2 separate regions of the Homo sapiens genome follow, and region 2 is reported to be linked to region 1. The links are microRNA targets in miRTarBase. Many come from high-throughput screens and were not tested one by one. Region 1 holds a microRNA gene; the other region holds the end of a gene's coding sequence.

The links. The annotated mature microRNA hsa-miR-183-5p reads UAUGGCACUGGUAGAAUUCACU and lies in region 1 at 1,999-2,020, shown strand. An mRNA with a match to its seed (bases 2 to 7 or 8) in the 3' UTR can be bound and repressed. Matches are read on the target gene's strand: a 7mer-m8 pairs with bases 2 to 8, a 7mer-A1 pairs with bases 2 to 7 and ends in A, and an 8mer does both.
Region 2: miRTarBase lists PTPN11 as a target of hsa-miR-183-5p. Seed matches in the 3' UTR shown: 7mer-A1 at 1,554-1,560 and 7mer-m8 at 935-941.

The regions. Positions count from the first base shown.
Region 1 is chr7:129,772,961-129,776,986 of GRCh38, reverse strand. MIR183 (microRNA 183) reads left to right here and starts at 1,973; the gene lies at 1,973-2,082. MIR96 (microRNA 96) reads left to right here and starts at 2,218; the gene lies at 2,218-2,295. RefSeq lists enhancers at 1-49, 2,893-3,754.
Region 2 is chr12:112,504,050-112,508,075 of GRCh38, reverse strand. It overlaps PTPN11 (protein tyrosine phosphatase non-receptor type 11), which reads right to left. Exons shown (of 16, transcript NM_002834.5): 15 at 3,280-3,381; 16 at 1-2,251. The coding sequence ends at 3,312. Among named protein-coding and RNA genes, the nearest start is that of PTPN11, 87 kb to the right of the region's middle.

The DNA.
Region 1 (4,026 bases):
TTTTTTGTTGTTGTTGAGACAGAATCTCGCTCTGTTGTTGCCCAGGCTGGAGTGCAGTGGTGCGATCTCTGCTCACTGCAACCTCCACCTCCCGGGTTCAAGCGATTCTCCTGCCTCAGCTTCGGGCGCCTGCTACCACGCCTGGCTAATTTTTGTATTTTTAGTAGAGACGGGGGTTTCACCATGCTAACCAGGCTGGTCTCGAGCTTCTAACCTCAGGCGATCCTCCCGTCTCCCAAAGTGCGCTGGGATTACAGGTGTGAGCCACTGCGCCCAGCCAGAAGAAAGAAGAATTCTGCATTCTGTTTAATTATCCCAGGGTGAGGCTTCTTGGGAAAGATTTCTCAAAATAGATCTTCCCACCCCCACCCCCACCCCATGCTGAGCTGTCAGGGTGCTATTAAAATGCAGATTTCCAGGCAGGCTCAAGAATCTACATTTCAACAGGCTCCTTGGGTGATGCTTATGGCTACACCCTAAGCAATGTTCATAACTACCCACCCCATACTCTTTGCTAACACCCTGCCATCACCCCTTCCCCTCCCCACCCAAGGCTGGGAAGTCTGGTCTCTCTTCCTTAGTAGAGTTCAGAAAATTGTAGTAAGGGAAACTGAGGCAGAAGGCTGAGGAGTGACTTCCTGAGATCACCACCTCATCAAGCTGGATTGTCCTCTGGGGAGATAGACCAGCTAGAAGGGCAGAGCCCTGTAGTGGGGGTGTGTGGGAGCAGGACAAAGAGTCCTCGGGAGCAGGAAGGGTGGAGCATTAAGCAGTGTCTAGGGGAGAGCGGATGGCTTTGGCCAAGGTACCCAGATGGAGCTCTGAGGTCCACGGGAGGTAGTTCCTGGGGGTAACATCGCCAAGAGGTCTGCATAGTTTCTGGGCCAGGGCACCTGCTCTGACCCTTCCAGGATATTTTCTAGCCACCCTGCCTTCTGGGCCACCGCTGACCTGGAGTAGGCTGAGACTCTAGTGGCCACTCTGCGGAGGCCCCAGCTTGCCTGCCCTGGGTGCCAGCTCCCCAGAGACCCTCCCTCCCACCCTCTCCCTTCTTCCCGTCCTTCCCCAGGGCCTGTGACACCAGAGGCAGGGCCTCCACAGCAACTTCTCTCTAGGCAGCTGCTCTGGCAACCACTGATGCAACCTTCCCAGCCCCTCCCTCGCTCCTGAGCCTCCGCTTTCCTCCGCAGTCACTCCAGAGCCAGCCAGGAGCCACTCCCTTGCTAGAGTGCATCCGTGCCTCCGGCTCCCTCCAAGCCACCTGGGTGGCTGCAGGACTTCTCTTCTGCCCTCCTTTCCTGGCCTTTTCCTGCCTTGATCCTAGGCCGGCAGCAGAGATGCCCAGCCTGGGCGGTTCACAGTCTGGCCCAATCTGGTCTGGTTTGGGATGGGAGTGGGGGTGAGCAGCAGATTCGGTTTGTTCCTGGGGCTCTGTTTCTGCCACAGGGCAGGCTGGGGGGTGGAGGATAATGGAGACCAAAGTGCCTAGGAGCCTGGGCTGCTGGTGTCTGGGCTCAGAGGCTACGAGAGGCATCTTGGATGTCCCACTGGTCACTGCCCCTGTGGCAGGTTGGGTAGAGAGGAGGCTCTGGCCAGCTGCTTGCCTCTCCGAGCCAGAGTTACTCTGGCAAGGAGATGGATGGTCCTGACCCACTCCCTCCCCAGCCTGGAGGCGCAGTCTGGGTGATGTGGAGGGATGTGGGCCTTCAGGTGGAGATAGGAGACACCTTGGTGTGGTCTTCTCCTCTGCAAGGCCAGAAGGTCAGCTCCTCTCCCGCACTGTCCCTGTCTCCTTGAAGGTCATCTTGGGCTGATGGGGCATGTGGATCTTGTGAAGAGGTGGGATGGGGTGGGGGGTAGAGACCGTAGCAGCCGCTGCTGAGGGCCTGCTGGGGGGCCCCCAAGGGAGTGGGCAGGCTAGGAGCAGGGAACGGGCATCGTGGGCCGCTGGTCTCTCCGCAGGGTCGGCAGGCCGCAGAGTGTGACTCCTGTTCTGTGTATGGCACTGGTAGAATTCACTGTGAACAGTCTCAGTCAGTGAATTACCGAAGGGCCATAAACAGAGCAGAGACAGATCCACGAGGGCCTCCGGAGCACCTTACCCACTTCTGCCTTGAGTGCTCCTAGACGTCGGAAACAGGCTGCTTCCAAGGGTGCAGGGATGCAAGGCCCCTCGTCCAGTGTGTCCCCAGAGAGCCCGCACCAGTGCCATCTGCTTGGCCGATTTTGGCACTAGCACATTTTTGCTTGTGTCTCTCCGCTCTGAGCAATCATGTGCAGTGCCAATATGGGAAAAGCAGGACCCGCAGCTGCGTCCGCCTCCCCTGCATCCTTGTGTCAGGGCCCCAGCCTGCTCCTCCTCAAGGCCTCCTCACCGCCTCCCCAGCCCATCTGGCTCAGCTGCTGTGTGAGGGCCCAGCGCTGGTGGGCAGCCAGATCGCCTTACACTGCCTGGGGCCACGGTAGAGCTGGGAGCCCAGCAATCTGAGCTGGGCCAGCAGATGGGGCCGCCCAGGGCAGAGGTGGGGGAGTCTGAAACCATCTGTAGGGCCATCCTGAATGGTGCCGTGGGTTGGAAAGGCCCAGCCAGGCTCCCAGCACACGCTTGGGGTGAGACCTTGGCTGGCAGCACAGGGCCTGGTCTTTTCTGCTGCAGGTTGTGAAGGGGGCAGCTCCAGGCAGGTGGGCTGCCCTTGAGGTCAGCCTGGGTGTTTCCAGGGGGGCTACCGTCTCTGGAGCTGTAGCCTGCTGTGGAGTGGGTCATCTCCGAACAGCTCCAAGAGGAGGATACTTAGTGGGGCTCGGAGTTGGAGGGCATTTTCAGGCCTGCCCCTAGAAGGTTCTGGAGCAGAGGCCAATGTTCCCCTTCACACACCACACACTGGTAATGTAGCTTCCTGGGTCCCTGGATCTGGGCTATGACTAACTGGCCTATGCTCTCCATCTGGGTGTCAGGTGACATTACATATATAATCCCAACAGTTCCCACCTCAGCCCTGTGGGGCTTGTAATTTTTTAAAATAGTTATCTCATAGATGGGGAACCTGAGGCTTTGAGAGGAAAGGCTTGGCTGAAGAGGTTGGTGAGTGGTAGAGCTGGGTCACTGTGGCTCTTCCGCCACCAGCCACACCTTCCATGGAGGCACCCAGGGCCTGGAGGTGTCTCAGCTCTGAATCTACAGGCCTGGGCTCCCAAGGATGCCCCAGATGGCAGAGACTGAGGCTGGGAGGCCTGGACCTAGTCTGTCAAAGCTGGGGAGAGCCTGGCCAGCCAGGCTGGACCCATGTGAAATCTGGTGGTCAGCAATCAAGCAGGAGACCAGTGGCCGACTTGGGACCAGCTGGGAGCTATCATGCCCCAGGTCACTGGGCCAGCCCCTGATGGGGCTGCTTCTCCCCAGGGAGCCTCAGGCAAGGGTTGGTGGACTTAGCCCAGATCAGTGGGAGTCATTTTAGGTGTCTGAGCCAGGGAGTGCCCGGGTGGGGGATGTGTGTGGTTGAAGCTGGCAGCTGGAGGATGACGGGTCCAGTTGACTGCACAGCAGGAACATGGTGACCAGTGCTGCCTGCCTGGGTGCCCTGGGGACTGCCTTGGGTGGGTTGGGCCTTTTTTTTCTTGTCAGTTAGCTATCACCAAACCGCGAGGAGCCCCCAATAAATTCCCTCTGGGGTGTGGTGCCCGTGTTTCTCTACAGAAGCTCTCCAAGCCCCTGCAGAAAAAAGGAGGGGCTTGTTTATTTCAGGATAGAAGGGGACTTCTGCCCTGGTGAGGTGTCCCTGTAGCTAGGTCTCTCTTCTGATGGCCCCAGCTCTCCCTCTGCCCCTCGGAACCTGGCTGGCCTGTGCCGCACCCTGTCTCTGTGCTCCAGTCCTCCGCCCCGGGTGCTTCCTTAGGGCGTCCTGCTGCAGGTCCCATGGGATAGGAAAGAAGGGATTTCCCGGCCTGAGTGAGAATGAGCCCTGGAGGTGGGGTGGGCACAGAGACCCAGCAAGGGGGGGTGGAAGGCCCCTGGCAGTGACCGGTTCT
Region 2 (4,026 bases), not on the chromosome of region 1:
CTGGTGAAAGACTTTACCCCCAAAGTCAAGTCAAGTCAAGACAAAACCAAAGCAAAATGGAGAATGAGTCGATGTAACAATGCGATAAAAAGAACAGCATTCAAGCTTCTTGCTGCAAATACTGAACTGGAATCTTTTTCTTTACAAGTTTGACTAGAAGACAGCAGTGACACTTCCCTAATAAGGGAATACCTTCAGGCCACACCTGTGTTCTGAAGCAATTCAAAGTTCAAGGAATATTGGGGGGTGGAGGTGGGGGCTGATATACATTTTGTCAGTGAGAATGGCAGCCAAACTACCCCAAAGTCTCAAGGGACTGAGAGACCTCAGAAAGGAACTACCACCAGGGCTGGATCTAGGCCTTCCTTTCAGAAGCCAAAGTCAGAAGAATCCAAGGAGGCCACAACTTCATGGCAAAGATGCCATAGCATTATTACCATCACAAAAGTCAACCAATGATATTTTCATTGAAATATCCGCACTGGATGATTCAACATATGAGGCAAAGAGGGATGTCTTTGGAGAAGGCACTTAATGTAGAACATTAGCAAATCTTACTGGTTGGCTACAACAAAAATGAGCTCATTCAACCTGGCTGGAGGCCTGTTAGGGCTGTTCCTTCTCACTGTGGCCTGACTAAAACCCAGTGGCATTAAGAAAGAGTCACGTTTCCCAAGTCTGGGGATGCCCCAGTGGGGTGGTGCTGCTCTCAAAAGCCCTGTGTCCCTAAACACATCCATCCTCACAAGATCAGTTTCCCCAAGTGCTGGTTCCAAAAATAGGCTCAGGGCTAGCAGAAATCATTCAGGAAGCTTCTTGAAGGCCCTCTCTTTATTTCTTAGTCTGACTTTCAGCTTGTCCCAGCTACTGTAAGCAGCTTCGGCTTCCCAAGGTCACTAGCAACTTCTGCTTTTGCTAATATCCTTGGTTTTCCATGGCACTGGTTGTGACCGTCTGTTAGACTAGTGGCCCCCCACTTAACTGCACCTCTACTTCACACCCTTTTCTTGAATCTGAGCTGGGCTTGTGACTTGTTTAGTAAGTAGAGGGCATACCCCAGCTTTCTTCTGATTAGAAAAAACCATCATCATCATCATCATCATCATCATCATCATCATCATCATCATCAATAGAGGGAAGTAGAAGGGACACTGTGACAATTCTGGACTTAAGTTTTCAGAAGGCCTGGCCATTTCTGCTTTTGAGCTCTTGGGAGCTCTGAGCTGCATGTGAGAGGTCTAGCTACCCTGCCAGCCAGGCCACTGAAAGAGACTACACGAAGAAGGAGAGACTCAGGACTGCAGGCAGAGAGAGAAGCCCAGCCATCCCAGTCTCTCCGCCGACCTGCTGACCACATGAGTGGCCACCTGCAGGCTGGCAGAAGAACAGCCCAGCTGAGCCCAGCTCAGATTGACTAACAGTTGGGGGCAGGTTTTTTTAAGCCACTAAAGTTTTGGGATAAGTTTGTCAGCAACATTTGGCGACCAAAAACACTGGTCATTCATAGACGCCTTTTTTCTAAGTACAAGACAATTATTCAAATGCAAAGAAAATATGGCAAACGTTTTCCCACCACAAACTTCTCAGTCAACAGCCGAACTATAATTGGTCAACGGCTGGAAAAAAGAAAAAAAAAAAAGCCACACCTCTTACCTTAATTCATAAATATCCATGATTCTTTTTCTATGACTCTTTAATGCCAGTGCAAAGGTCAACTTCTGACAGTCTCAGGCACTGGCTTAATTCTCATTTGGCCAAAAATAGAAGCCATCAAAATGAATTATCCACTACTGGATACATGATGGTAAATGAGATTGTTCTCACTTTTCTAGGTCGTTGTTACTTAATTTTCCCAAATCATTTCTTCTCATCATCCCCAACAATGAGGAAAAAAAAAATTAAACTGGTTAAGGGTATAAAAATAAAAATAAAAAAGCCTATTACTAGAATTTGAATCCCCATAATCTGCAAAATACAGCGCACAATTTAACTGCTTCCTCAATTTCAAACAAATTCTATAAAATATAATGTTGTCTACATTGTAGAGATGATTTCTTCTTATCTGAGGAAATGAGTAATTGGGAAGCAGGTATTGTTGAGTTAAAATACAGTGGTCTTTAAATGGTTTCAAATTTTGCTTATCAAAAGGTAGTCAACCACATTGCAAGCCTTCCAAATCCAAATTCTGTCTTCACATAAACTTTCTTGCGTCTGTTCTTGATCTTTTTAGGGAGAGGGTGAAAGTCCACATCTGGGGAAGAAATAAGTTAAGAGTTTTTAAGGAACATATATCTAAAAGCTTAACAAAGCATTAGGTGATTTTAAGGTAGACTTAGAGCTTTTAACTACACTACCCATTGAAGTGGAATTTCGACATGAAATACTGACACTGAGTTTTTTTTTTTTTTTTTTTTTTTTTGAGATGGAGTTTCACTCTTGTGGCCCAGGTGGAGTGCAATGGCGCGATCTTGGCACACTGCAACCGCTGCCTCTCCTGCCTCAGCCTCCTGAGTAGCTGGGATTATAGGCATGCACCACCATGCTCAGCTAATTTTCTATTTTTAGTAGAGACGGGTTGGTCTCTACTATTTTAGTTGGTCAGGCTGGTCTCGAACTCCTGACCTCAGGTGATCCGCCCACCTCAGCCTCCCAAAGTGCTGGGATTACAGGTATGAGCCACCATGCCCAGATAAGTTTCTAATTTATCATGAAAACATACATCATATACTTGGGTCACACTTAAAAAACGTAATTGATGGGGAGGCAACATATGGGAGAGATGAATTTCCAGCAGCAGAGCTGGAAGGGATGTCGGTGACCCAGTCGGCAGCCAAGTGGTCTAGCACCCCATGCCACACAGTTGGTCAGAGACTGACTGAAATGAGAACTCAGGCTTCCTGACTCCCAACCACCCAGTGCTGAGTCCCGATGCTTCCCAGATCCCTACAGATCATCCCCCAGCACAGCCTGGGCTAACCAACTCTAATAAAAATTGCAGGAACAGTGATACCTGCACTCTACCACCAGTATCAGCCATTTCTCTGGAATAAGTGCTAGCCTTGCCTCATGCAGAATTAATTCTGTGTTTGATTTTAATGTTTAATGAACTCTAAACTAAAACCATCTTGGAAAAAGAAGTACAGGGAGAGGAAAAAGGAGCCTGGTTTGTAAAACTCAATTATGGTACACTTTGCTAAAACATTCCCAAATTGCTTGCCTGCTTAAAAATACTGCCAATTATATAAACAATTAACCAATAGAGCACTTGCATTTAAATACCTATTTCTGTGCTGAAGTTTTGGCAGGTTTTCTCATCTGAAACTTTTCTGCTGTTGCATCAGGCCCACGTTTTCATAGACTCTAGCACTGTCTTCTCTCATTCTGGAGAGAAAAGAAAAAGAAAGACATTTACAAAAATGTAGACCACGCTGTTTAAGCTTACATGATATCTATAAAACACATACTACATTCTTTGGGCACCAGATATGGTACAGACACAGTTCCTGTGCCTAGGACCTGACATTCCCAGGGAGAGAAGAGATAGCCATACAGCAATATAATTACAGAGGCAGAAGTGAAATAACGCTGGGCATGGTGGCTCACGCCTGTAATCCCAGAACTTTGGGAGGCCCAGGTGGGTGGATCACGAGGTCAGGAGTTTGAGACCAGCCTGGCCAATATGGTGAACCCCGTCTCTACTAAAAATACAAAAATTATCCGGGTGTCATGGCACATGCCTGTAGTCCCAGCTGCTTGAGAGGCTGAGGCAGAAGAATCTCTTGAACTCGGGAGATGGAGGTTGCAGTGAGCAGAGATCGTGCCACTGCACTCCAGCCTGGGCGACAGAGCGAGACTCCATCTCAAAAAAACAACAGAAGTGCAATAAAAGCCTCAAGTCCTGGTGCTCCCTGGGGTCTGGCAGAAAGCAGGTTGTTTTAAGGAGGCCTGTAGGATGAGGCATTTGGATCGCACTGTGAAGAAAGGTTGGAAATGCACACATAGAATGAAATCCTATTAATTTCCAGT